Homo sapiens: one gene and its partners. The protein of the gene in region 2 purifies or fractionates together with the protein of the main gene of each other region. This does not show direct contact. Each region holds a gene or a part of one and is shown on either strand. Other genes may lie near its edges.

What was found.
Region 1: the proteins of PLOD1 (region 2) and P3H3 purify together in Homo sapiens (affinity purification with mass spectrometry; 2 studies listed by BioGRID and IntAct, with this or other methods). This does not show direct contact.
Region 3: the proteins of PLOD1 (region 2) and FOXA1 purify together in Homo sapiens (affinity purification with mass spectrometry; 3 studies listed by BioGRID and IntAct, with this or other methods). This does not show direct contact.
Region 4: the proteins of PLOD1 (region 2) and HNRNPH1 purify together in Homo sapiens (affinity purification with mass spectrometry; 3 studies listed by BioGRID and IntAct, with this or other methods). This does not show direct contact.

The regions. Positions count from the first base shown.
Region 1 is NC_000012.12:6,824,186-6,831,418, reverse strand, and holds the start of P3H3 (prolyl 3-hydroxylase 3 precursor), read right to left. Parts: upstream 3,013-7,233; 5' UTR 2,979-3,012; coding exon 2,481-2,978; intron 1,561-2,480; coding exon 1,408-1,560; intron 1,067-1,407; coding exon 865-1,066; intron 781-864; coding exon 649-780; intron 204-648; coding exon 67-203; intron 1-66. Other genes in the region: GPR162 (probable G-protein coupled receptor 162), read right to left, coding at 4,215-4,766, 5,066-5,223, 5,746-5,935, 6,654-7,233. UniProt on the Homo sapiens protein: Part of a complex composed of PLOD1, P3H3 and P3H4 that catalyzes hydroxylation of lysine residues in collagen alpha chains and is required for normal assembly and cross-linkling of collagen fibrils.
Region 2 is NC_000001.11:11,958,712-11,965,732, reverse strand, and holds part of PLOD1 (procollagen-lysine,2-oxoglutarate 5-dioxygenase 1 isoform 2 precursor), read right to left. Parts: intron 5,088-7,021; coding exon 4,966-5,087; intron 2,202-4,965; coding exon 2,097-2,201; intron 1,559-2,096; coding exon 1,433-1,558; intron 1,090-1,432; coding exon 948-1,089; intron 254-947; coding exon 140-253; intron 1-139. UniProt on the Homo sapiens protein: Part of a complex composed of PLOD1, P3H3 and P3H4 that catalyzes hydroxylation of lysine residues in collagen alpha chains and is required for normal assembly and cross-linkling of collagen fibrils.
Region 3 is NC_000014.9:37,592,250-37,599,688, forward strand, and holds the start of FOXA1 (hepatocyte nuclear factor 3-alpha), read right to left. Parts: upstream 3,001-7,439; 5' UTR 2,724-3,000; coding exon 2,652-2,723; intron 463-2,651; coding exon 1-462. UniProt on the Homo sapiens protein: Transcription factor that is involved in embryonic development, establishment of tissue-specific gene expression and regulation of gene expression in differentiated tissues.
Region 4 is NC_000005.10:179,613,676-179,620,690, forward strand, and holds the end of HNRNPH1 (heterogeneous nuclear ribonucleoprotein H), read right to left. Parts: intron 5,733-7,015; coding exon 5,594-5,732; intron 4,649-5,593; coding exon 4,470-4,648; intron 4,386-4,469; coding exon 4,314-4,385; intron 4,258-4,313; coding exon 4,124-4,257; intron 3,975-4,123; coding exon 3,839-3,974; intron 3,436-3,838; coding exon 3,376-3,435; coding exon of another isoform or gene 3,346-3,375; intron 3,284-3,345; coding exon 3,194-3,283; coding exon of another isoform or gene 3,185-3,193; intron 2,544-3,184; coding exon 2,451-2,543; intron 1,921-2,450; coding exon 1,871-1,920; intron 1,285-1,870; coding exon of another isoform or gene 1,166-1,284; 3' UTR 503-1,165; downstream 1-502. UniProt on the Homo sapiens protein: This protein is a component of the heterogeneous nuclear ribonucleoprotein (hnRNP) complexes which provide the substrate for the processing events that pre-mRNAs undergo before becoming functional, translatable mRNAs in the cytoplasm.

The DNA of each region.
Region 1 (7,233 bases), on a different chromosome or scaffold from region 2:
GTTACTTCTCAGGTCTATTTGTTTGATTTGGGGCTACCTCCCAGGTGAGCGTGGAGAGGGGATTACCTCTCTGGGTCCGAGGCCAGGTCTCGGCTCTCCCAGCTGGGCCTGGTACTGGTTCAGAGCCCTCTTGGCAGCCTCATCCTCCGGGTAGAAGAGCAGGACACTCAGGACATTTTCTATAGCCTGGGACAGATTGCCCACTGGAGAGGGAGCGACAAGGTCAGGGGTTGGGGGATGAATACTTAGAGCACATTGATCCTTGGGGCAGAGGCAGTGCTGGAGAAGGTGGTCTCCAGAGGCCAGACAGCTAACTCCAAGAGCCCCCTTCCCACTGGCAGACAAGTTCAGCTGCCGGTTCTTTCAAACACTGGTGCAAACATACCTTAGCTGGAGAGTTCAAAGAAGAGCAAGAGGGGGGAAAATAAAGGAAGGTGAGAAGCAGCAAGGCAGAAGGAAGCCCATCTCCTGAGCTTGTCACAGGCGCCAAAGGAGGGCAAATTAGAGTCCTTGTGAAGTGATGGTTCCCATGCAGCCCTGACAGTGAAACTACAAATCCAGAGACAGATGGGAGGGATAGAGAGATGGAGCTCAGGATAGCAGCAGAGGCAAATCTTCACTCCCCGTTTCCACCCTTCCCCAACTGACCCTGAGCATGGGCCTCATGTAGCCGCCTCAGCTGGTTGGGAAGGAAGTCTGGGACAGGGAAGCTGCGACCAGGGCGTGTGGCTGTTTCCCCCACACAGCGTTGCCGGCACTGCAGGACCTGAATCCAGTGTCCTGCAGAGGAAACCCATAAGCCATTCAGCTTGTTCATGCCCCTCCCTGGGCACCGACCCACCCCCTCACACACGGGACCCTTACCTGCAATGGCCTCATAGAGGCCCCCCTGGCTCGCAGCCCCATCCTCCTCTTCTTCAGCCCCCTGCTGCTCCTCAGGCCCCTCACAGTCAGCACGGCAGCTCTCCATCTGGGCCAGGCTCCCCTGAAGAGCCTCCTCTAGCCTGGGCAGTGCCAGTCCTGCCTCCTGGCGCCCCAGTAGCTCCAGGCCAGTGTCATAGGCTGCCTGTTGGGGAAGGGAGCAGTCAGTCACCTAAGATCCAGGGGTTGCCAAACTGGGAGGTAGAGAGGAGAGGGGTGTTGGTCTCATTTGGGGCAAGGACTCCATGTCCCTCTTCACCGTGGAGAAGAATAAGGGTGGGCCTCAGAATCATAATGTTAGAACATCAGATTTCAGTGATCATCCAGGAAGGAAACGAAGTCCTAGAGAAGGACTCCCAGCCAGGGTCGCTGAGGATCATTACCCCATCTGTATGCTCAAGCAGCACAACGCACAGTTTAGTGAGGCCTGTGTATCCAGCCAGGAAAAGGCTGGTGGCAAGACAGGGGTGGTGCTGGGATTCTCACCCAGTGTGGGGGCGTCTCCAGGTCCCGGAAGCTCTGGGGCCGAACTCCCGACATTCGTCTGTACTTAGCCATGTCCTCCCGCATCTGCAGGTGCATGGGGTTTGCTACAAAGAAGGTGTGTGCTGCCGCAGCTGCCAGATCCAGCTTCTTCAACTGAGGAGGCGAAGGGAGGAGGGCATCAGAGCCCTGGGACGGGGGGCAGACCTCTGCCCCCTGGCCAGCCTCCCCACCCTACCCCAGACACACACTCTGGGTGCCCCAGAGCCTCATGGAAGACTGGCCAATCAGAACCGCCCACCGCCCGAACTGCAGATCCCCTAGAGGCCAGAACGTTGGGACTCTCAGAAGGCTGGCACCGAGGGAAAGGGGATCTAAAGACGTCGGAGTTGGGTGGGACATGGGTCTCAGGACTTCAGGACCTCAATTTGGGAGACCAGGTGGAAGTGATGGCTTAAGTGAGGTGGGGAAGTGGGGGAGACCTCAGCGACCAGCAAAACCCGCAGGTCTCTAGGACCCTGAGCTGAGGTGAGTACAACCGGCGCCCCGCTTCCCCAGCCACGTAGGCAACTGCTGCGGTACCGGCGGCTGCGGCGTGCTGTCCCCTCCCCGCCCGCAGAGGTCTGGCCTCGGAGGACCCCAACCTTGCCTCCGTCTGCTCCTTCCTTTCCGAAGCTACCTCCTGCCCCAAGCGAAGGTTCACACTCACCACCACCCCCGACACACACACACACCCACGCACACTTCCCGTCCGAGAGCCGGTTTCGCCCCCACCGCCTCCGCTTCATTCCTAGGAAGAGGCGGCCCTGTCCCTCCATCTTCGATCTGCTCCCGTCCCACCTCACGACCTCCCCGCCCCATTCCCATTCTGCTCGCACTCCCCCTCGGCTGCTCCTCTGCGATCTCAAGAGGTCCTCGCGGTCGCTTAGCCAGCTCCTACGCAGAGGCCCGCGGTACGCTCCCCAGCCCCGTGCGGGGCCCGGGCAACAGCATTCCGCCTACTCCTGGGCAACGCAAAGTAGGACAGCGTCGTGGTGAGGGCTGGGACCCTCGGAGCTGCCCGGCCCGCTCCCCACCTGGTAATAGGCCCTCTGCAGGTAGTTGTAGGGCTCCCGACGGCGGAAGGCGTCCCGGAGCGCGCTCCCCACGCGAAGCCGCGCCGCGCCCCCGGGGCCCAGCCTCCGTGCTGCGCACTGGGTCAGGCAGTCTGCGCGGCGGAGCGCTGCACGGAGAAGCTGTCGCTCCCAGGACCCCTGCGTGGGTCCCGGCCCGGAGTCGGGCTCCGGGGCCCCGAGAAGCACGGCGGGGAGCGCGGCGCCCGGATCGGCCGCGCAGCTCGCCCCGCAATCCAGCCGCACCCGGCCCAGCGCCGCCTGGCTCCGCAGCGCCTCCCGCAGCAGCGCCACGGCCGGCGCCCAAGCCCCGGCCGCGTAGGCGCGCAGCCCGTCAGCGTAGAGCAAGTCGGGGGCCTGCGGGGGCGCCCCCGGGGACAGCTGGGTCAGGCCGGGGGGCTCAGGGGACCCCGGGGGAGGCAGCAGCAGCAGTAGCAGCAGCGGCCGGAGGAGCCGGAGCATGATGTCGGAGCCGCCGGCAGCCGAGGGGAAATGCGGGAGCCGAGAGGGAGGGAGAGGAAAGGGGGGAAGGGGAGGGAGGGGGAGGAAGGAGAGATGGAGAGGCGGAGGGAGAGGGAGAAATAATGAGGGAGGCCGAGAGAGAGAGAGAGAGAGAAGATGGGGCTGAGACCCGATGGTGGGAGAGGCCCATGTGAAAAGATGGAGAGAGAAGAGTGCTGAGTGGACAAAGCTGGTCTAGTGTGGAATAAGAGGGAGAAACTGGGAGGAGGAGGGCAAAAGGCGGGAACTGGAGCAGGCCTGGGCATCCATGAAGGATGACTTCAGCCCCAGCGGTGACTTCAGCCCCTGAGGTCTGGGGGTAACTACTGGGGCTGTGTTCCCTCCACACACACGCTTCTGGGTCCAGAAAAAGGAGTGTGGACGCCGATCCCCCCCTCGCCCCCCCCCACCCCCCCACACTCATCCACCCCTGCACTCCCACCCCCCCACACTCATCCACCCCTGCACTCCCACCCCCCCCACACACTCATCCACCCCTGCACTCCCCCACACACACACTCATCCACCCCTGCACTCCCACCCCCGCCCACACACACACTCATCCACCCCTGCACTCCTTTGGAGAAAGAGCTTTAAAATGCAGCAAGGAGGAGGTGTCCAGGCCCGGGACACTGCATCAGCCCCAAAACCTTTCCTGCCCATAAAGTGAGCCCCTGCATGGATTTGAGGTTAGAAGGAGAGTTGGGCACTGGGGCTGGAGCCACGCTCTAAAACCACCTCAACAAATCTGAACAGAGATCCTTCATACCCCAACCAACGAAGATGTGTGTCCTCAAGCCCCGCCCCCAGCAGGATATGCTCCTCCCAGCCTTCCCTGTGCGAGGCTGCCTGGTGGAGCATGTGATCATTTCTCCATGTGTCCTTCTGTGCCTCTGTCTGCTGCCCCTGCTCTGTCGTGTCCCCTGTGAGCCACTCCACCCTCCAAGCCCCTTTCCACCGCAGTACACTGGACACTGAGGTTTCCATGGCAACACTTCAGACTTTAATACATATTGCTAGGGGTGATGGAAGCTGAGTAGGGCATCTGGTCACTTGGATGGGAGAGAGCAGGGCCTTCTGAGCCCCAAATCTAGCGCCCGTCTCCCCAGAGTCTGGAGGCAGCTGCCCTACTCTCGGCCAGAATGAGGTGTTACTCACTCAGGCTTTCTCCTCTGAGTTCAGCAGGCCTGCTTGGGCTCACAGGGTCAGCTGGGGAAAGATGGGGTTGCCTGGGCCCCAGGATCCTCCCCAAGCCCTTGCACTTTCTTCACCCCCCGTCAGGGAGCAGCGTCTCCCTGCGCTTAGTCCCAAAGGAAGTCCAACGGCTCTGCTCTCAGGGGACCCAAGGGAGAGTCGGCGGGGTGAGAGGCCCAGTGGCCGGGGCCGACGAGGAGAGTGCCCTGGTGAGGCAGTCGGAGAAGGCAGAGGTGTCTCATCGATGAAGGTGGTGATCTCCTCCCGGAAGAAGCCAGGACCCCGTGGGGGTCCCCCACCTGACCCCAGAACCCCACTCTCCAAGAATTGGCGAAGGCTGGCCAGCCCCCCACCTTCAGCCTCTTCCTCGTCCTCCTCGTCCTCCAACCTGTGTCTTTGTCCCAGGTACTCAGGAGGACCCCCGAGGGCCCGGCTCTGGGCTGGGAGGACCCGGATGTCATCAGAGGATGACCACTTGTGCAGGAAGGAGCCTGGTTCCCGAGGGGTAGAGAAGATGTTTGTCTCATCATGGGACAGACGCCGGGATAGGGGGACCTGGGAAGAGGAGCGGGTAAGACCTGAAGGTGCTGCAGGGACAGAGGCAGAGGCAGGAACCAAGTGGGGACTCCGGAAGATGGTGCCACCTTCTTAACCTTCAAAACGTTTGCTCCGGTGGGCAAACCTGGCCCCACGAGGTCTGAAGGGATGCCTCTCTTGCTATAGCTTTCTTTCACCCAGCTCTATGGTGCCCTGAAAGCCAGGGCTAGGGAAGAGGGGATTGGGGTGCCTAACAGACACTGGAGAAAAGTGATGAGCGGCACCAAGGGTAGGAGATGTATCCCCCAGTTCCATACCTGTAAGTAGTGGACTCTCTCAAGAGGAGGGAAGAGCATGTGCCTTCCAGGCAGCAGCTTCACCTGGGCGGGGTCCCGGCTCCCTGGTCCTGTGGCTCCGTTAGCATCAAAGCGAACTTTGCAAACTCGGCCCTCTGCATAGTCGTCACAGCCCCCATCTAGGAGAGAAAATGGGCAGAGTGGTTACAGGTAGGGAATGCCTACCGCGGCCTCCCACCACTGCCTTTATAAGCTCCCAGAGACCCCTTTAGTTCCCATTAGCATGTATGTTCCAAGAGGACAGTGAGAGTGGCTAGCATTTGCTGCGTTCAGTGCTAAATCCTGAGTGGAGTGCTTCATACATATAGATGAAGTTATTGAAACAATTGCCTGCACTCCCCCAAGAGCCGTCCCTATAGCTGGGGGGCCTCTCTCGGGAAGCTCAGGTTCCCCATAGTGCCAGAGCTGGGCAGTGTGGGTTTCTGGAGGGGAGCCTAGGCCCAGTGAAGGGAGCCCTGAGTGCTGCGGGAAGCAGTGAGTGGACAGCAGGGTGCCTGCTTAGGGAAAGGGGAGCCCAGGGTGGTGCAGATTCTGTCCAGTAGGGGGCACTCCAGGGCAGCCCATCCTCTGGCTGAGAAGGAGCGGCAGAAAAGGGAATAGACAGATGTCCAGGAAAGCCAAAGCCCAGCCCCTCCTCTGACCGTCATCTCCATCCTCCTCAGACATGATGGCCACGCATTGCTCCCACACTGTGCGCACGTCGGCGCGGTAGCGCTCGCAGGACCAGATGAAGGAGGGCAGCAGCAGCGTCTGTGCCATGGAGCACCACAGCACAGCCAGCACCATCCAGGGGGGCGCCGAGTCCGACTTGAGGGAGAAGAAGCTCACCACCTGGGGAAGGGTGGGAGCGGGCTGGGTCAGGGCCAGAGCTGAGGAGCCCACCTGAACCCCATATCCTAGTGCAGCTGGTGGGCAAGACGTCAGAAGTAATGCCTGATCCCTGTGCTCCAACAGAGGCGAAGCCGGAGGTGGAGATGGAGTGAACAGAGGGAAGGGACTGACTCAGAGGAAGGTCGGGGAGAGTGCTGGAGACAAAGCCCTGCGGTCAGGAGGGAGAGGAACAGAGGTGGACCAGGAACCGTAGAGACAGACAGGAACCCAGGAACAGTGACTAGATGGGGTGGTGGGGTGAGCCCTGTGGGATTTCCAGCCAAGAGTGCTCAGAGACCATGTGGCAGCCCGAGGGAAGGAGGGAATGGAGAGTGGAGCCCAGCGGCTGGATGAGAGGTCTGCGGCTGAACCGTGGAGCTGCAGGATGGATGACGGAGCTGGAGGACAGGTCGTGGAACTGAAGGACGGTGATGGAGCTGAGGAGTGGGAACTGAAGCAGATGCTGGAGCTGGGGTAAACAGGGTAGTGGGAACTAAAAGACAGATGATCAAGATGGGGGCCACAAATGGAGTGGGGGATGGACAGAGGAGAGGAAGATGGATGATGGAACTGGAGGAGAGATGACGGAGCTGCTGTATGGCTGATGAAGTTGGAGGTCAGGTGATGATGCTGGGGCCTGGATATTGGGGAGAACAGGTGGGGAGGACCCCGATCTCACCAAGATGGGCACCCCTGTGAGTGAGTCATAGAGAAAGACGATGGCGCTGACCAAGTTGGTGACCTGCAGGGATGTCTTGGCAGACTCCGAGCCATCCAGCGAGGACCGCCGCTTCCCTCGGGCATCCTCCACCACAATGGCTGGTACCTCAAAAGCTGGCCGGGTACCCAAGGCCCCTGGCCCACCCGCTTTGGTCCCCCCACCACCCCCCACTCTCCGGGCCTGCCGAGCCCTCCGGGGCCGGGCCCACAGTGTCTGGTAGAAGGTGATGGCCACACAGACCAGACCCATGACAATTCCCCCAAGTAGCAAGAGGCTGAAGCAAACGCCAAAGCCGAGGCCGATCTTGGAGACTATGAACTGGCAGCCGCGGGCATAGTAGCGCTCGCCGTTGTTGTGCCAGCCAATGGAGGGCAGTGTGGAGAGGATGAAGCTGACCATCCAGATGCCCATGACGGCATGCAGTGCCTGCTTCTTGGCGTTGCTGAGGCGGTAGTTGACGGGCCAGCGCACCATCCACATGCGATGGTAGGAGAGGGAGGCGACCGTGAAGCAGGTGGCCAGCGCCAGGGTGTAGTAG
Region 2 (7,021 bases):
GCCTCCTGGGGTGAAGGGAGGGTGGCAGGTGGCCTACAGGGGTCCTGGCTGTTGTAAGACTCTGAGAGGGAAGTCCCTCCGACTGCAGGATCACTGGGCCCCTTTGCTCCCAGCCCCTATGTGCCCACCCTGGCCTCACCTCGGGGTTGCTGAACACCTCCCAGAGGTCGTTGTGCAGGTGGGTGGTGCGGTAGCTGTCTAGGGAGAGCAGATGGCCAAGGGTGTGCCGGTTGGTCAGGAACATGAACACATCCTGGGGAGGACAGGCCCGGTGGAAGAGGCGCTCCCCCACCCCTCCCCTGCCCTCACCCCTCCCCTGCACGCTCCCAGACGGGCAACAGTGCAGCCTCCTCCACCCGCCGAACTGAAGTTCCCAATATCAGAGACCAAGTGCAGTCACCGCTATGTCCCCAGGGCCCAGCCCAGGCCTGACACTAAGAATGTGATCAGGGAAGTCTTCCCAGAGGACTGAACACAGAATGAAAGAAAAAATGCGTAAAAGAAAAGGAGCGTGTTCTGGTCCTGAAATGTTGGTCACAGGGGAAAACTTCATCTTGCTGCATGTTTAAAAAAAAAAAAAAAGTCACAAAAATATATGGGGTGGGGCGCAGAGACAGGGTGAGGTGTCTCTCGGGCACATCACTTGGAGTACCTTTAGGTGGAAAGTTCCGTTTTCTTTGGGCTATTCCAAAAATGTAAATAAAATAGATGGTATAAAAACCAGGTCAGCTAAAATGGTCCCTGCAGACCCCTGAGGACCAGCCCTCGTGCCCGACGGCCCCCATTCCTCCAGCAGGCCCTGGTGGCTTCCGAGATGCCCTGCTAGAATCTCTGGAGCTCCCAGGCCTACGGTGACAAGGCGGCCCACCATGAGGGTCAGAGCTGGAGGCCCACCTTCCCGCCTGCCCCATCCAGAGGGCGTCCTGTGCTGCCCGCTCCTGGCTGACCTGCTGCCGGATGTTGGCACAGAAGGCCATGTCGGGGTCCAGCTTGCTGTGGTGGAAGAGATCTGAGGACTGCAGCTCACCCCGCAGGGCACTGCCCTTGATCAAGTAGATGTTTGAAATATAGGGCACATTCCAGACACCACTGTGGGAGAGACAGAAAGCGGGTGGGGGTCAGAGGCTGGTGGTGGGGAAGATGGAGGGGGTCACAGGGTGGTGGTGGGGAGTCATAGCCTGGAGTCTGGGTGTGAGAAGGGAAGTCACAGGCTAGGGGGGCACAATTGTGCTGATTTGATTCCCCCGCCCTGGACACATGGGCCTATTTGTCAGGAAGTCCTTCTGTGTGTCTAACTGAAGTCTTCCTTGCTTCAGGTTCAACAGGAATTTGAGGGTAACAAGAACAGGAATAATAGGGAGGGAGCCCCACAAGCCCAGGCAGAAGCCAGATGAAGGTGTCCCCCACCCACCCCCACCCTGCAGGTACTCACACACGCCGCCCCTGCACAATGTCCACGTAGTCCTCGGAACGGGCATAGTAGCCATCTGCACTGAGAGCCCCCCAGAAGTTCGACCACAGCCTCCCATGCCGGGTCATCAGCGGGGCAATGACGTTCCTGAGGGAAGGGAGCACCTCAGTAGGAGGTCGCTGCCCACTGGGAGTAGGAGACAGCACTAACCAGGGATGGGGGGAGGTAGGTGCCCCTCAACCTGCACGCAGGGATCCCCAAGCACCTCACTGAGACAGGCAGTGCCTTGGCCGGGGTGTCGGGGGTTTGGCTCTTCTGGTACCTGCTCCCTCCCATGGGGCAGCCAGGAGCAGACAGGGCAGGACACCTTCTCTATCAGAACCTGGGGTATCAGGCTGGGGATCCACAGCTCTGGGTAATAGGTGAGGCCAAGGAGGAGGAGGAAGAGGAGGAGGAGAAAGAGGATGAGGAAGACGAGGAGGAGGAGGAAAAAGGAGGAAGAGGAGGAAGAGGAAGAGGAGGAGGAAGACAAGGAGGAAGACGAGGAGGAGAAAGAGGAGCAGGAGAAGGAAAAAGAGGAGGAAGAGGAGGTGGATGAGGAGGAGGAGGAGGAAGGCAAGGAGGGCTGCCACCCCAGGACCAGGCCAGTCCTGAGCAGTGCTGGGTGCAGACGGAGCAGCCTCACTTGTTCTGTTGGATCAGCAGCCGCAGGCTGTTGGGCTCGGTCAGGGCCACGTCAGCATCCACGCTGAAGTAGTAGGTGCAGCTGCGGTCCTGCCGGCACAGGTCTCTGCAAGGAGGAGGACACAGGGTCAGTGCACCTGATCCTGGAGCTACTGGTGGCTGCTCACATCTGTGACCACAGTCTGGCTTCACCACATATCAGCCAAGGGGCTTTAGAGAGGTCACACCAGCAGCCTCAAAGGTTCCTCCCGACTCTGAGTCCCAAACCCCTGGACTGCTGGGCTCTCTCACCCAAGGCCCAGAGGTTGGCAACTGGTATCAAGTGCCCTGAAAATCCTGGTACTGGGAAGAACACAGCCCACAGGTGCCTACATGGCCCAGGGTGGGGAGTAAGCTGGGGCTGCCTTTCTGAAATGCAATTTGGTAACTTGTACCAAAAGCCTTAAAAATCTGTGTTACTTTTGTTTATCTGGTACAGGACTCAGCAAACGAGGGTCTGTGAGTCAAACTCTGGCCCTGCCTGGTTTTGTACAGCTCATGGGCTAAGAACAGCTTTATGTTTTTCTTTTTTTTATTTTTATTTTATTTTATTTTTTTGAGAACGAGTCTCACTCTGTTGCCCAGGCTGGAATGCAATGGCACAATCTCAGCTCACTGCAACCTCCACCTCCCGGGTTCAAGCGATTCTCCTGCCTCTGCCTCCCAAGTAGCTGGGATTAGAGGCGTGCACCACCATGCCAGGCTAATTTTTGTATTTTTAGTAGAGACAGGGTTTTACCATGTTGGCCAGGCTGGTCTCGAACTCCTGACTTCAGGTGATCTGCCCGCCTCGGCCTCCCAAAGTGCTGGGATTACAGATGCGAGCCACTGCACCCGGCCTTTTTTCCTTTTTTAGAGATGGGGGTCTCACTGTGTCAGCCAAGCTGGAATGCACAATCATAGCTCACTGCAGCCTCAACTTCCCCAGCTCAAGCAATCCTTGGCCTCCCAAAGTGCTGGGATTACAGCCACTGCACTTGGCTGATTTTATGTTTTTAAGTTGTTTCAAGAAAAAAACAAATCGGCAGGGCGTGGTGGCTCACGCCTGTAATCCCAGCACTTTGGGAGGCTGAGGTGGATGGATCACGAGGTCAGGAGATCGAGACCATCCTGGCTAACACGGTGAAACCCCGTCTCTACTAAAAATACAAAAAATTAGCCGGGCATGGTGGTGGGCACCTGTAGTCACAGCTACTCGGGAGGCTAAGACAGGAGAATGGCGTGAACGTGGGAGGCAGAGCTTGCAGTGAGCCAATATTGCACCATTGCACTCCAGCCTGGGTGACAGAGCGAGACTCCATCTCAAAAAAAAAAAAAAAAAAAAGAAAACAAAAATCAAAAGAAGATGTAAAAATTATGTGAAGGTCATCACCAGGTGCAGTGGCTCATGCCTGTAATCCCAGCACTCTGGGAGGCTGAGACGGGAGGATAACTTCAAGCCAGGAGTTTGAGACCAGCCTGGGCAACATAGCAAGATCCTGTCTCTACAAAAAATAAAAATAAATAAATTAACCAGGCGCAGTGGCTCACACCTGTAATCCCAGCACTTAGGGAGGCCAAGGCGGGCGGATCACTTGAGTTCGGGAGCTTGAGACAGGCCTGGAAAACATGGTGAAACCTCGTCTCTACTAAAAATACAAAAATTAGCCAGGTGTGGTGGCAAGCACCTGTAATCCCATCTACTTGAGAGGCTGAGGCAAGAGAATGGCTTGAACCTGGGACGGGGAGGTTGCAGTGAGCCGAGATCGCGCCACTGCGCTCCAGCCTGAGTGACGGAGTGAGACTCAGTCTCTAAATAAATAAATAAATAAATATTTAAAAATTAACTGGATGTGATGGCACATGCCTGTAGTCCCAGCTTCTTGGGGGGCTGAGGCAGGAGGATCACTTGAACCCAGGGGTTTGAGGCTACAGTAAGCTATGATCCTGCCACTGCACTCCAGCCTGGATGACAAGAGTGACACCAAGTCTCAAAAAGAAAAAAAAATAAATGACATGAAAGTCAAATTTCAGTGTCCATAAATGAAATTTTGCTGGAATGCAGCCTCTGTGCTACTAGGGCAGAGCTGAGGGTTGTCACAGAGCCGGCAGAGCCAATTTGCAAAGATTTATGATCTAATCCTTAGCAGGAAGTTTGCCAACCTTTGATCTGGACTGTCTGACTCTTCTACAAGCAACACAAATTACTTCTTTCTTTGTTTTTGTTTTGCTTTATGAGACAAGGTCTCGCTCTGTTTCCCAGGCTGGAACACAGTGGTGCAATCATAGCTCATGCAACCTCGACTTCCCGGGCTCAAGAGGTCCTCCTGCCTCAGCTTCTTCAGTAGCTGGGACCCCAGGTTCAAGCCACCACACTTGGCTATTTTTTTTTAATTTTTGAAGAGATAGGGTCTCGCTATGTTGCCCAGGCTGCTCTTGAACTCCTGGCCTCAAGCAATCCTTCAACTTTGGCCTCTCAAAGTGCAGGGATTACAGGCATGAGCCACTGCTCTCGGCCTTTTTTTTTTATATATAATAAAGTAAAACATTCAAGGTTGGCTCCCTAATAGTCAGCCTTTGTCTACTTTTGCCCCCAGTCCTTCCTCTTTCTCTGATTTGCTTCCTGAACCCAAATAACATGGCTCAGCCCTGCCCAGGAGCCCCGGGGGTTGGCAGGACAGAGGCTATTTCCCCTTTTGACAGATGGAAACTCCAAGGCCCAGAAAGGGGCAGGAACTTGCTAGAGCACACACAGCCTTCTGAACTCCTGTCACTCAGCCTGCTGCTCCTTACCACAGCCACAGCTCCCCTGCCCCCACTGTCAGTGGAGAGTACTGTGGCCCACAACTCACGCGCCCATGTTCCTGGCATCTGCATTCGCCATCCGCACCTCAGGGCCCACCAGCTTCACAGACTGGTACTCGCTGCCATGCTGTGCCAGGAACTCTTCCACCTGAGCCTTGTGGTGCTGCTCCTGGGGTTGGGGATGGGGAAGGGGATGCGGGGGTGAGGAGGAGGACACAGCTTCCACCCAGGGACTGTAGCACCTCCTGTCACTGCCAGGCTGTGCCCCTTCATCTCTGGCACCCCGGCCATCTGCTTTCCTGTCTCCAGACCTTTGCCCATGCCAGCCCTGTGCCAGGAACACCCTTCCCTGGCCATCCTTTGCCCATTCTCCTCTGACCAGGTCAGGCCTCCTAAGAGCCTCTGTCATCAGGATAGAGCTCCGCCACCACGCTCAGGATCCCACATCCAGAGACATTGTTGATTCCTGGGTGTGGCCCAGAGATCCACTTTGTTACAAAATGTGCCAGGTGATCCTCAACTTCGCTTTGAAAAACAACAGTCCAGGCCAGGCACAGTGGCTCACGCCTGTATTCGCAGCACTTTGGGAGGCCGAGGCGGGTAGATCACCAGGTCAGGAGTTCAAGACTAGCCTGGCCAAGATGGTGAAACCACGTCTCTACTAAAAATACAAAAATTAGCCGGGCATGGTGGCAGGCACTTGTAATTCCAGGTACTCGGGAGGAGGCTGAGGCAGAGAACTGCTTGAACCCGGGAGGCGGAGGTTGCAGAGGCAGAGAACTGCTTGAACTTGGGAGGCGGAGGTTGCAGTGAGCCAAGATCGCACCATTGCACTCTAGCCTGGGAGACACAGCAAGACTCCATCTCAAAAAAAAAAAAAAAAGGAAAAACAACCATCCAGCTGGGTGCGGTGGCTCATGGCTGTAATCGCAGCACTTTGGCAGGCGGAGGCAGGCAGATCACGAGGTCAGGAGATCGAGACCATCCTGGCCAACATAGTGAAACCCTATCTCTACTAAAATACAAAAAATTAGCCAGGCACGGTGGCAGGCGCCTGTAATCCCAGCTACTCGGGAGGCTGAGGCAGGAGAATGGCTTGAACCTGGGAGGCAGAGGTTGCACTGAGCTGAGATCACGCCATTGCACTCCAGCCTGGGCAACAGAGCAAGACTCCGTCTCAAAAAAAAAAAAAAAAATACAAAAAATTAGCCAGTTGTGATGGCGCATGCCTGTAGTCTCAGTTACTTGGGAGGCTGAGGCAGGAGAATCGCTTGAACCCAAGAGGCAGAGGTTGCAGTGAGCCGAGATCGTGCCACTGCACTCCAGCCTGGGTGACACAGCGAGACTCTGTCTCAAAAAAAAAAAAAAAGAAAAGAAAACCAATTTGACTGCCACCAGGTACAATTAGGAAGGTAGGAAGGATTAACAGTGACAGGGATGGAAGTGAAGATGACAACAGTTAGAAGCAACTAGATGCGTCCTGTGCACCAGGCACCTTTTACGAACTTCGCATGTCAGCTTGCTTAGCCCTTGCAGCAATTCTGTGTGATTGCACAATTATTATCCCTATTTTATTTTATTTATTTATTTATTTATTTTTATTTTTTTTGAGACGGAGTTTTGCTCTTGTTGTCCAGGCTGGAGTGCAATGGCGCAATCTCGGCTCACTGCAACCTCTGCCTCCCAGGTTCAAGCGATTCTCCTGCCTCAGCCTCCTGAGTAGCTGGGATTACAGGCATCTGCCACCACACCCAGCTTAATTTTGTATTTTTAGTAGAGGCAGGGTTTCACCATGTTGGTCAGGCTAGTCTCGAACTCCCGACCTCAGATAATCTGCCCACCTGGGCCTCCCAAAGTGCTGGGATTACAGGCATGAGCCACCGCGCCCGACTTTTATGCCTATTTTATAGATGAGAAACTAAAGCACAGAGAGGTTGAGTAATGTGCCCAAGGTCACACAGCCAATAAAATAGCGGCGCTGGGATTCAAACTCACCCAGTCTGACTCCAAAGTTAACTCAGTGATTTGGGGACACAGTCCACTGGTGATTGTCATTTGGCCCAGATAAGCTAGATTCGGTGAGACCCTCAGAGGTCTCGGGCT
Region 3 (7,439 bases), on a different chromosome or scaffold from region 2:
GAGCGAGATGTACGAGTAGGGCGGCTTGGCGTGCGGGTAGCTGCGCTTGAACGTCTTGGCGTCGCCGCCGCCGCCCGCGCGGCTGCGGCCCAGGTTGGACGGCGCGTACGCCATGGGGCTCATGCACGGGTTCATGGCGGCCGCGTAGGGGCCCAGGCCATTCATGGAGGCCGCCTGCTGCGCACCCATGGCGCCCATGCCGCTCGGGCTCAGCGCCGTACCCATGGCCGTCACGCCGGCCGCAGTCATGCTGTTCATGGCGCCCGCCGAGCCCCCCGGCATGCCGGCTACTGCGCCGGGACTCAGGCCGGCCCCTAGGCCCGGGTTGGCATAGGACATGTTGAAGGACGCCGGGGTCATGTTGCCGCTCGTAGTCATGGTGTTCATGGTCATGTAGGTGTTCATGGAGTTCATGGAGCCCAGGCCTGAGTTCATGTTGCTGACCGGGACGGAGGAGTAGGCCTGGAGTGGAGACAGCGAGTGAAGAAGCCCCGGAGGGCGGGGTTAGTGGTGGGCACTGGAGGGCGGCCGTCCGGGACCTAACCCGGGGGCAAGTGCAGAGCACTTTGCAGAACACGGGACGCCCCCACCCGGGGCAAATGGCTAAGCGCCCTCCCCAGACCGAGCAAAGATGTCTTGCACGGCAGGGGGAAAATCCTAGCGCGGCAGGCATGAAAGATAAACGCTCACAGAAAATATGACCCCAGGAAGATGTGTAATCGCCTTACACGCCAGGCTCAGGGGCTGGCTTCCAGGGCCCCCTCATCGCCTCCTCCATCCACGCCAGGCGGTATCCCAAGTCTCCACCCCAACCAGCCTCGGCAAAGCGCCCTTTGGGGGGAAATCGTTGATAGAGCAAATCACCTATGGACATGGGACCCCCTGAATCATCTGTTTCCCAACAAGTGGCTTTATTGTCCTAGGGGTTTTTGCCTATGGTGACTTTTTGTTGTTTATTGTATTTAGAAGTAGTGTTTTCTACCTGCTTGTAGCAACTGTAATGTTAAAAGGGAAGCAAACTCAGAGTTAAATAAGTTTTGGAAAAATAAAACTAAAAGTAGATCCATAACAGAAAGGGCTGGGAGGGGGTGCTATAATAATCTCAAAGTGCTATATGCATTTTATTTTAACATGACTTTACATGTACACCTTTGCAAGCTATTTAGAAACTCGCATTAATTTTGTCACCACTTTACAGTCCCCTGTTTGAAAAATTTGGTGACACAGTTTGTCAAAATAAATCTTTTTTTTTTTTCACATGCTGATGTTGCTGCCGATGATTTCAACGCCTGGCTTTGAGATTCCGTGAGTAGTCTTGAATAATTTAAAATTCGAAAATCAAATTCTACTTATTTTCTCTTAATGCTATTGTATTTCCTAATTCTCAGCTTTAACATGTAAGAAAGTACTTTCGCTAGGGGTCTTAATTGAATGGTGGGGTCGAGATGACTGCGTCAGAATTAAATCTCTGGAAGACCTCTGAGCTCCTTTTAAAATCATCAACAAGCGAAAATCCTTATCAATAGCGATGTGGGAATGCATTAGGTACAGTATTTTAAACATACAAAACCTAGGCATATTAAAAAGCACTCCTCTGGTAATTTAATAAGGAATAATGATGTCCTTAAGTTTATTTTAATCAGCAAGTATGACTCAATTTGAAAATATGAGAACAAATAGATTTAAATAGGAACACCCAGTAAACTATGGTATGCAAATAAACTCAGAGGTAAACTTGTGAATACATAAATCTAAATAAGTCAGTTACCATCAAAATATTACGTGATCCTATATTTTTCTGTCCACGTCTTAAAAGTATTTTTTACCTTGGGGCTTTATTTTCTTTCCCTCTTCCCAAGATTATCCAAGGCAGTTCCAATACGCGTTTTCAATAATGGTAATTAAACTTTTGGAGGGTAATCGCCAGCTGTTTCCAGAAAAATACTTTTAATAGGTGGTAGTCCTCCCTGTAACTGGTTTTCCCTGTAATCCTTTTGTGCACATTGTAAAAATAACCCCCATGAACGTGCCACCAAGGGGACAATGAAGAGAAACAGGTTCTCGGCCCAGAGTTGTGAAGAAGATTTTGGTCGCACTAGCGCCACCCAGCGGTTTTAGAGAAGGAGCACACTTCTCCCCAAATAGGGCTTTTGAAGAACAAGTTTTACAAAATTTAGAAATCGTTTCATTATTGAGACACCCAACTTGGCGGCAGAGCGCTTTAATCAGAAGACGTCTGCGAATTAAACGGTGGGACGAAGAGGTCGCCTTGTGGGTATGCTCCGGCTTTCTCAGAGTTGCTTCCAACTCGCACCGGCGCTCGCCCGCCCGCTGCACCCCGGGCCCGGCTCCTGCTCCCGCTCGCTGCTGGGAAGAGGCAAGCGCTTCCTAGAGCCGCTGTTTTCAAAGCCCGGAGTTTCCTAAAACTCCCTCTCCGGCTGCGAGAGTCGGGACAGAGCAGGGCAGCAGGTCCCGCTTCCAGGCCCGGCCAAGGCCCGGCCGGGGCCACACCGGCGGGCGGGCAGCGGTGGCACCGAGAAGGCGCCCCCGGCCCGCCTGCCTGCCTTGCCTGGCGCCCACCGCTCCCCGGCCTCCCCCGGCACGGGCTCCAGCGGCGCCCCACCGGCCGCCCGCCTCGCCTTGCCTCTCACCTCCTGCGTGTCTGCGTAGTAGCTGTTCCAGTCGCTGGTTTCATGCCCTTCCATCTTCACAGTTCCTAACATCCTGGAGCCACCCTGCCCAATACAACCATCCAGCCCTGTGCGAAGCGACGGGCGGCCGCGCGGCGCGGGGCGGGGGAGGGGAGCTGAGCAGCTGCAGTCACCCGAGCGCCCGCGCGGGCCCAACGCCACCCGGGCGAAGAGGAAGCCCAGAGCTGCGGGGCGCGGCGTGCGCGGCGGCGGCGGCGGCGCGGCGGGCGGGGGCAGCGCCGGGGGCAGGCGGCTGCCGCGGAGCGCGGCGCCGGGGAGCGCCTCCGCGGGAAGTGAGCGGGCTGCCTCTGCGAGGCAAGTGCAGTTGAGCTGATGTGGATCTTACGTCGCTTGAGTGCCCACCTCCTCGTCCTCTCCCCATTTGTCCGCCGCACAAAGACGCTCGCACCTACAAAGCCCGAGGTGCACCTGCAAGGCGGCCGCCCGCCAGTCCGGCCGCCGCGCCTCCCGCCCCGCCGCTTCACCGCTGCGCGCGACCCCTCCCCCGCGACCCCTCCCCCAAGCGGGGCCCTCACTTTGTTTGCAAAGCAGTGTAATTGGTTTAGGCCCGGAGGCTAGGGAAAGAGGGAAATGGGGAGGGAGGGGGTGTAACCCCCTTTGGAAAAAGAAAAAATAGGCGGGGCCAGGCGGGCGGGCGGGCTAGGGCTCTGGATCGGAACCTCGCAGCCGGAGAAGGCCGGGGGCGGTGGCGTCGGAGACTGGGCTTAGAGACCTTGTGGGATAACTGACCCCGGGGTCCCTCCCCAGAGGTACACGCCACCTTCCGAGCGCGGGCTGCGGCCCAGTCTCGCGCCCCTCCTGCTCTTTGCTTCCTCCCTCCTGATTCCTGACCCAAAGTTCAACCCCGGGAGACTGGAGAATACAGACTTTTTTTTTTCTTTCCTCCTGAGAGCTTCAGACTAGAAAAGGGAAAAAGCCCCACTTTTGCTTCGTCACTAGAAACCGGGTCATCTGAGTCAGCCGAGCCAAGTGACGTTAGGCCGACCCGGGCCCCGGGCTAGCAGAGCGGAGGCGCTGCCACGAAACTCGTACCTGCGGCTAAGAGCAGGTGAGTCACAGCACCGGTTTATATCTTTATGACATAACTTTTTTTTTTTGTTCCGCCTCGGTCCGCTCCTCTCCCCTTGTCATCTGTAGCGACCACAAAGAGGAAGAAACTGAGAGCAGATGTCTGTGTGATAGGGCAGGCGGACCCAAGTCGGGCCGTCCTCCCCCTGCCGGGCTCCTCCTCCCGCCCCCCTTCAGCCGCTTCAGGGAGTGAGCTGGAGACGACCGTCTGGTTTCTGATAGGAAAAGGTCAGGGGGAGGGGACATCTCCCATAACACGCGCGTTAGCTGGGAGAGCAAGGGCCTGGGCGCGGGAACGCATCTGCACTGCGAAAGAGATGCCAGGCAGAAGCCCGAGACTGCCCGCAGCGGCGCTTGGTCCTGTCTGTGACCCGGAGGGTCCGGGCTGAGATCTCAGGGGCTCGCTTGGTTCCTAATCGGTCCTGGACGTCGGTGGGAGAGTCTTCCCAACGCAAAGTCTCTTTACTCTCATGAGGCCCTGGGTGGTGGTTGCCCACTTGTCCTGGGAGAGAGAACAACTGAAGTGACCGGGTGATAGGCAATTAGTTGGTGATAGATTGGGAGATGGTGCGTGTGTTTTGAGTGTGTGACCGTTTGTATATTTCTGAGCATGTGTGACTGTGTGTGTTTCTGAGTGTCTGTGACCATGTGTTTGTTGTACTGCCTGTAGAACCACTAGGTTTCCTTAAGTAACAATAAAATAAAATCTAAAGTAATTAAGAATCCGCAAAATCTTCTTGTTTTGCAAAGTTTTTAAAATGTTATTAATCTCATTTTAAGAAATGTGTTTTAACTTGTCTTCCAAACAGATACCTTTTTCCCTGTGCTTTGTTCTTTTAAATCTCTTTTACTTGAAATCTGGCAAGAGAATCACTTTAAATCCCTGAACCAAACAAATCTCTTAAGTCAGCAGGGGAGCAGAGAGGGTGAAGATGTGCAGTTAAGGAAATAAAAAAAGATAAAAGCATTGGATTACATTTTTTTTTTTTTTTTTTACAAAAAGGGTGGGGGGGTAGAAACGTCACATCATAAGGAAAGGAATGAGTGAAATTAAATCCACCTGGAACTCAGTAGGGCAGGAACCCTCCCTAATGCAGCCTGCTCCTGTGACTGCAAGTTGTCCCATCAGTTTGTGTAAATGTATCTGCGAATTGTGTGTCAGAAACTAATTCTTTTGTGCAAAGTTCCCATTAGTAGCTGACTTTAGTTCCATTTGTAAAGTATACGGATGCTTAGCTTCCTGGGCCTGATCCGGGGGACTTTCAGTGCTAATGAGCTTCCTTGTTCCTTCTGGAGGTGATTCTCCAATACCCTCTTGGCTCTTCAATAACACCGAGCAAGACTAGGTTATTTTCTACCGAGAGTAACAATTTATGGATAGTAATAGCTTTTATAGTGCACAAAAAAGTTGGCGCTTTAAGTAGGGGAAAAACACTGTCACCTTAAAGGGGGGGTCAATTACAATATCAAATGTTCTTTTAGCCCACTTCCCAAACCTACTAAGTCTCATATTTTCAAAAAAAAAAAATTGACTTAAGAAAAAAAAATCCACTTTTCATAGCGTGATGGCCGAAGCGGAATTTCTCCTAGGCTTCTTCAAAGCCCAAGACCGGTGATGCAGAATGGACTCTGCCAGCTTCGGAGACTTGATCCAGGTCAGGGATCCCAGGTTCGCAGCCGGGGGATTTCCACGAAAACAGCGCCTCCTGTCGTGGAGAGGGAAAGCTGAATTTTCCCGCAGGCGCCTCCGGGGAGCACCGCCAGGCGATACTGGATTGAACTCCGCACGCATCCCAGTCAGGGATTTAGGTTCTTAGAGCCGAGGCCAAGATGGAAGGAGAGATGGCCGTTCGTCCAGCTCCCAGCCTCTCTCCATCTCAGTGGCCGCATTGCAAGATACCTAACAAATTTAGGAGGTGAGGTTCTAGTGTACCCAGATGCCAGCCAGTCACTTTCCCTGAGGTTTAAAAGCGAATCAGCAGGGTCGTGTTGGGTCTTTGACTTGGAAATGCATACATACATACATAAAGTAATGCTGCTGTCTGGGAGTTGCTGGCCAGTCGGTAGCCAGGTCCAGCGGCTGCAGCCTGCTCTTTTCCAACCTCTTTTCCCAAATAGGCACCTACACCATTGGAAACTGTGCTTTGCAAGGATTGTGCTGCTCGTTGGAGGAAACCAGGCCTGTCTTCAGCTGTGGGGAGGATGGGTGGACTCGGGGCAGGGTACCCGCGAGGGCAGGCACGTGGCGGCTCCTGCGGTGTCCCGGGTTAAACTTGCCTGTGTTTAAGACGGGTCTGCGACAGCTTGGGGCGGTCCAGGTCGCGGGGAGGGCGGGCTCCTCAAGTGGGGGATCCGCGGCAGTGAGGACTGTAGGGTGCGCGGGTACTCCGGGTAGCCGCCAGCGGAGGAAGCGGCTCCGCCCTTCCCGGAAGCTGCCCTTGCTACACCCGTGGGGCCTGCTCCCGGCGCAGTCCCGCAGTACCTGAGCGGCACTCGGTCCTTTGACCACGCTTGGCTGCCTCAGCTTACACTTCCCAGCAGGATCTGGCTGGGAGCCCCTTCCTCAGATATTCACCAGGCAGGTAGAAGCAGAGGGAGACGACGGCGAAAGGTGGAAGGAGAGGCCGCGGCCTCGGGCCTCGGGCCCCGGGCCCAGACGGCGGCCTCTCGCGGCGACAGGGTCCTTCCTATTTAGCAGGACCGCAGGGTTGGCAGACAGCAGGGCCTGGGCCGGCGGGGCTCTGCGGTGCCCATTCGAGTCTCTCCAGGGCTTCCCTCTGTGGCTGTCCCTCGCCTGCCCCCTTTCCTTGCCTACCCTTCCCTGGACGGGGTTGTTGTCAGGTGACGGCTTCAGCAACCCAGCCATGCTTGGTGTGGAGTGGTTCGAGTTCCTCCGCGGGCCCCCACCCCCCACCCAGATAAGAAGCTTAAGTCCTCCTTCTGCAGGGGAGAATCGGATGCAATGAAACTAAGACCTGTGGTCGTTAACGCGGTTCAAAGCCGACCCCAACTGGGACACGGCTCAGCTTAGAAGTGAGGAAGGCCTGGGACGCTGGAAACAAGGGGTCACACGTGCGTGTGCCTGGCCTTCGCAGGTGGATGTGTGCGCCGAGCTGGGGAAGGGGCCAGGGAGCCGCGAGACTGCGGTCCCCCGCGAGAGAGAAGTATGGGCCTGGCCAGGGTTCGAACTCCGTTCCTTCGCTGCCTTCCTTTTATTTTTCTTCCTCATCTTCCTTCCTCTCTCCCTTGGTTCCATCATTAAATCTTTAAGGGATTAATTCACAACTCTGTAGTAGGTAGGGGCCCTGGGACCACTTGACGGGCCTTTGCAGGCAGTTCTGTACAGAGTCCTAACCCGTAACGGGCCTCAACCCCGGCTGTGTGTGCGTGTGCTTGTGTCTGTGTGTCTTTGTGTGTAAAAGCAACGCATAAACATACCCAGGGCTTTCACTTATTTTATTGAAGCAAACAAACAAAAACAGCCACTGGGTTTGTCTTTTCCCCTACTCCTGCCTGAGCGCCGCCGGGTTTCTGAGCTGCTCCGGGCGCGGACCTAGCTCACCCGCAGCCGGATGTCGGAGCCGGAGCTGCTCCCCACCCGGCCTCGCCCGCGGGCGACAAAACCGTCCCTCTGGCCACGGGAGAGCATCGCCTTGCCAA
Region 4 (7,015 bases), on a different chromosome or scaffold from region 2:
TAACCCCAACTACTTGGGAGGCTGAGGCAGAAGCCCACAAGGTGGAGGTTGCAGGTGAGCTGAGATCACGCCACTGCAATCCAGCCTGAGACAACAGAATATAACTCTGCCTCAAAAAAAAAAACAAACCTATGAGCTTATGAGCTAGAAGAAACCCACATATTCATCACACCTCCCTTGCCTCCGGCACCTTCCCAGCCAAGCATGAAGGCCTCAAAGACATGCAGGCATGCAGTGAGGGCACTGGCGCCTCCCCCTTTGTTTTGTGCAAGTGCTTAATGAGTTACAGGCAGTTCAGATCAGGTCCTGTGCAGCCAAATGACATACAGCCCTTCCACCAGGGCCCCAAAGACGAGTTTACCTTCAGTTGCACTGGAGGGAAGACTGAAGACATCTACGCAACAGCCTCAACTGCCAAGCCAGAGATGTGGCCCTAGGCCCCAGGTGGGCACAGAGCACCAAGACTCAGTCCACATGACACTGAAGCACAGACAAGACAGAGTGCAGTTTTTAAAAGGAGGATTTATTTGACAAGTTTCACTTAGCGCAATATACCTAAAAGGAAATCACAATACAATGAAAGATTTAAATCAAGGCCTCAGAATTTCATACAAACACCAAGACCAAAATCCTAAGTATTGGTATTGCGTCTCAAATTTTTCCCATTAACTTAAAAAAAAAAAAAGCTTAAACTTACGTGCCTTACAGGTTATTAAATGAAACTAGAATTAACAAACATGCCAAAATGTTTCACTTTTAATAGTAGACACAGCTCCTATATTGTTTTACAAAAAAATAAAAGCATGTCTTTCAACATGCATCCAAAACAGTGTTCAATTTAACGTGGCAAAGGGCAACATTTAACATAATTCAACTGCTTTTACCTAAATACGCTTACTGCTTAAGTACATCCTATAACTAACTTGAGAAAAGCTGGAACTTAAGTTTAACAGTTATAGTTTACTCAGCTTCACTGTTACATCCTAGATGAGTATTGTATTCAAAAATACTGGGCCTTAAGTCTTCATAACAATCCTGATTTCCACTTAGAGTAAGCATAAATCACAAGCTTGTATTGCAGAAACTGTTAAACTGAAGTTTTCTTAAAGAAAAAAAAAAAAAAAAAAAAAAGGTTGACCAAGAGTCAGTGATCAGGATCGATCAATTACATTCCCCATCCACCACTCATACTGGACATGCTAGACAACCCTCCCATTCCGTTCACGCCCATAGATGCACGGCTTCCACTACTGTAGTAGCTGCTGTTCACTGCTCCTTGGTTACCTGCAAAGAGATCAATTTGACAAGTTAGGAGTAATATCAGACTACCAGTCAAATAAAATATAGTATTCCAAGAAAAAGTTTAAAAAGTATACGAGTACAAATGGCTGCTGTCCAAGTGGCGAGACGCATGTTTGGGAAAGGGGAATCCCGACTCCAAACAAGCCTCAATTAACCCCTTTTCTCTGCAGTACCAACTTGCCAGACTCTTGTGCTACCATTTTAACGGATTCTTCAGGATCAACATGAAAAATTAAGTTTAAAGGAAAACTAGTGTTTTTCAAAAATTGCAAAATTACTTCGTATTTTTAAAGCTAAACAAGGCATTTTTAAAAAAAATTTAACATAAACATTCACAATGTGTCCCTCGAATGGCATTTGAGAAAAGGGAGCACAGGGGAAGTCTCTTGCTTTTCCTATTCATGGTGGGCAGGAAGTGAGACAACCAAGCTGGACTAAAGGCAACTCACTGTGCCCAAATGGCAGCCTCCATGGAGTTAAGTCAGAGCCATTGACTGCTATAGAAAGCATTATTACAACATATCAGTATTTGCTATTGGGAATTTATATTTTTTGAGAAAATATTTACCTATGCAATGTTTGATTGAAAATCACTGGAGTTTTCCTGTAAAACTTGGTCTGCAAAAGGATTTTGTAGGGTAAGACTATAATACCAAAATCACCATTCTTTAGACCAATTGAAAAAAAATAAATAAAACCAATCCTAGGTTAACTGACTAATAAATACGATCCTGAACCCAACCACCATTCTACTATTTCAAATTCTCCCTCTGTCTAAAACTGACTTAATGCTAACCAAAAGACAAAAAAGTGAACAACTTTATTTAATGTTTTAATACATGGAGGCAGATATTTTCTGGCTCGACAGTATTCCAAAGCTGCAATGACTAGTTCTTAATTCAAAGAACACTTCCCCCTCCCAATGATTGTTTCTGAAAATTAGCTAGTAAAAACAGTTACATTTGGATTGAAAGCATACATTTCATAACCCAATTTCACCGAAAGGAGCCTGCATCTTCCCAACTAAAGGCACCTGCCTGCGACTTACTCTAAGTACAGTAACAGGCTTTACCATAACTTACTCTAAGTACAGTAATGAACAGGCTTTACCATAACTTACTCTAAGTACAGTAACAAACAGGCTTTACCGTATCCACTCATGCTGCTCTGGCCACCGTAGCCGCCTCCGTAACCCCCACTCAGCTGCTGGCTGGCTGGGCCCCCGTAGCTGGACTGGTTTGCTGTTAAGTTAAGAAAACATTAGAACCTTTTTTCTTATGTGATGTGGTACCTGGTGGTACCGGGCTTGTAATTCTATAGCTATCATTTTCCAGTCTTGATCTTACATTACTGTAACCCTCTGCCTCCTTCTGCCTACTGTCTATAACCAGGCCACCCTTCTATCCATCATTTGAGCCAGTCAAATATTGATAAACCAAAGTGCTAACGGTACACACATCAGCAGGACTAAAATCAACATGATTCCGTAAGTAGAGGCATTTTGTGAAGATCTTATGAAACTGCTTGACTGGATTTAGTGGGTTCCCCCTCAGTTTGATACATCAAAGGCATGTCAATACACCTAATTATGCCCACATTTATCTTAATCCTGTTTTGCTATTGATTTAAACTTTATACTTAGAAAATTTAAGTAGTTTCACTCCGTAGTCCCCTCCCCCAAGACTACTTAAACCTAATTTGAATTATCTATCCTAAGGAACTTCATAACTCACAAGGATTTAAGTAAGCCAGATACAAAACTCAAATATCAAGAAACTGCTTTGCCTAAGTTTCTTATGCTAAACTTATTAAATAAATAGATTAACTTAACTTATAATTGACTTATACAGATATAAACGTTTTGGTTTTTAAAAAAACTAACGATATTTACACAAGCCCATGCCTCCCATCATTTGGCTACCATAAGCACCACCGCTTGCTCCTGCTGTAGAATTCAAGAAGAGTTCTACATATCTGTGTTCTGAAATGAGAGAAAAGGCATACAAGGTTAGCTTAAAAAAAAGACACTAAAGTGATATTTACACAAACCCATGCCTCCTAGCATTTGGCTACCGTAAGCACCACCGCTTGCTCCTGCTGTAGAATTCAAGAAGAGTTCTACATATCTGTGTTCTGAAATGAGAAAAAAAAAGTTTGAAAATGTTTGTTGGTGAAACAAAACAGAATAAGCACTTTTATAAAGTTTTTAAACAAGCAGATCTGTGAACTTCAAATACTTTGGCAAAGAAATTCTAGCTACTTCTCTTAGGTGATCTACTTTAACTCCAAAATCTAGCCTTTACATATTCATCTGTATTGTCAATTAAGGATATACACTTCAAGATGTGCATATCACAAATCCGTTATACTAATTTTTAAAACCCAAACCTTCAACACACTGCCCCCGCATCCCCCAAGAATTAATCTATTACTGGAGAGGAAACTTCTCATATATCCTTATTTTTCCATTTCTCTATTGTAAATGTTAGTCACACAATCACCTGTTAAGAGCCCACAAATGCTCAATCACACTTACGCATATTTGCTTTGTCTTTTGACATAGCTGCCACAGCATCTTCATGAGTTGCGAACTCGACATCTGCTTCACCAGTTACTCTGCCATCAGGACCAATTTCAATGTGTACTCTCACAGGGTTGAGCGGTGAAAAAAACTACAACACAAGGCATTTCAAAGAATTCAACCAACTTTCTAACGTTACAAAAAAAACCTAAAATTTCTAACATAGTGCTCACATTTATAGAATAAGGCTGACTTACTGCCATACTGAAATATTGACTTGTGAGTTCATCTCACACTTACATTATAAATGTCATTCTCAGTAGCTCTGTAAGGTAATCCCCGCATGTGTACACAGTGTCCTGTTGTGCTCTGGAAAGTAGAGCCACCATCCCCGTATCTGTGATCAGACATTCCTGAAAAACAGTAATTGAGGTCTAGATGGACAAGAGTGTAAGCATCCTTCAACTGAGAAATTCAATTCTTACCTTACCTCTTCCAAATCTATCTGACCCAAATCCATAGCCATCATTATAGCCATTGTAATCATCATAGCCTCCATAGCCTGAAAGACAAAGTACAATCAATCAAATAAAACACCTAGACAAAGGAACAGACGACTTGCCGAACCTTACGAATCCTCACGTACCTCCACCATAAGCACCACGCCTCATCCTCTCAAAGCCAGCTCCTCTGCCAATGCTGTTATACCCTCTACCAGCCCCAGGTCTGTCATAAGGACCTGGCCGCTGCATGGCCATAAGCTTTCGTGGTGGATCATAATGAGTTCTAACTTCAGCTCTACTGCTCTTAAAGATTTCAATATACCTAAAGCATTGTTCATAAGGAAGGGGTAGGGAGGGGAGAGAAAACATTAGTTCATTTTATACAGGTATTTAGTTATACAAGAAAACAATCTAGTCATAGCCATGAAACTGACTAATATTTAAAGCCAGATTTCTTATATTTGCATAGGCAATGACCAGAAATTCACTCAATAAATAGTAAGACAATGTAAACTTTATAGAAAAAAAAAAAAAACTCACTCCTCTGAGGCAGAGCCCAACCTTAGGGGTAGAGAGGAGTACTGTAAATAAATGTTTTAGGAGGGAAATAATTCCACTCAACTTTCAACATTTCAAGTCTTAAATCCATTGGCAGCATGTATAGCAAGTGGGCTAAAAAGCCAGCCTCCACCAACAGTCCAGCCCACACTACACATTTCCTTTCGCCAATAAATACCCCAGCCTATGCTTTTAGTAAGAATCAGCATAGGTAAGCGCATGCTTCAATGAAAAATAGTCACAAGCAAAGAGAATAAAACCTTTTGTGACAATTTCTTGAAAGCTATGCTTATTAATACTATGCAGAATATTTATATACAGCAAGAAAAAGTTTGTTGCATTTCAACTTTAAAAACAAGATCAGAAAGTATCACATTTTCTTATGGTAATATTAATTTATTCTAGGTGGGTGTTATTACAGCTAAAGCCAGGTTTGCATTAATTTTTTAAAGCCATAGTCTCTCAACTCTATTGATTGGGGTTAATAAGACTCACAAAATTGTCAAGCAGACCAATTAACTAGGGACAAATTTCAAACCTAAAATTTAGTTTGCGTGTAACGTGGGACTGACACAAGTTTGGAAATCATGGCAAAACATCAATTACCTAGGACTACAAAACATTAATTTCTTCTTTTAAGCAGAGAGAATATGGATTTAATTGTTTACCATAAGAAAAGTGACATATCCAACCAACCATCCATCCCCACCTGTGCCCTATTCTTTCCTTGTGTTTCTTTAGAGCCTTTTCAGCTATTTCCTGTGAAGCAAACTGCACGAAGGCCTCCCCCGTACTCCTCCCCTGGAAGTCCACCGGCAATGTTATCCCATTTGGCACGATTTCCAACCCTTCAACCCAAGGACAAATAACCCCAGTAGGGGGGCAATATTAACATCACAAGCCCAGAAATGATTCTTCTTATAGCTTTAAATAAACCAGAATTTTTAACTTTAGGTGAATGGTATGCTTTCAACAAGTACTCTTTAAATATGCATTGCAATAATATGAAGTTCCATTATTATAAAGTATAACTATTCTTAACACACCCATGGTACAGTATATATTAAAAAAAACTTGCTGAACACAGGATGCATTAAGAATTCAACAACTTAAGAACACATATCTATGCAACTTAATGTTGAGAATTATACAATTCAATTAAGTTTTAAGCATTAAATAACAGTTTTACTAAATTCAAAACACCTTTTACCTCATTTTATATTTCAATGCTTTAAGTTATTGGAACTTCAAGTTTTTAAAAAGGTATACATTTACAACATTTCATATAAAAACTGAAACATTAAATTATAATTGACAAACACAACAATCTAAACTTTCAACAAAACTGATCTACACAGCACAATCATGCATGCTTATGCTCTAACAGTAGTTATGATTCACTTCTGGAAATTCCGTCTATGAAAAATCCTTTCCGTGGATACATTCCCAAGCTTACAAAAAGGACTTAAAGCACTTTCCTAGAAGATATGAAATTATGTTCATATTTAACGTTGACAGCATTCAATTCTCACCAATTTAGTGTCAAAACAAAACAGACTTGATTTTAAAAATTCTGACATTAGGACTCGATACATATATCAATTTTTAACATACTACACTAAACCATGAAAGGATTTCCTGCTTCCAGCGTATCACATCATAAATATTAATACTTAAAATATACGATATCTTATCTAACATTGTTAAACATGCAATCTTATCAGCTCTTCAGCATAAAAACATTCAAATACTTTAGGCCCAGGAACAATTTCAAAACACTTATTTCAGATACTGAGACTACAAGCATTCAAACTACTCTCACTACATCTGATTTTCAGTAAGTTTATACCACACAGGTTAAACCAAGTCTTTCATAAACCGACTTTTGCATTAAAGAGAATTAGACCATTAGATGCTTCTGGTCACATGACCCAAATACGTGTCTCTTGCAACACAGACACTTGCCATAATTTACAACAACCTAATTCATCGCACTGATGATCTGCTGGTAAAGGGATCTTACCTTTAACTTGAGGTACTTAGCTGGACACCAATGTGAGGAAAGTAGTTAAGCTGTTGAGGGCAATCCTCAATGAAAGATCTACTCTGAACTATAATACTAAATATAGGC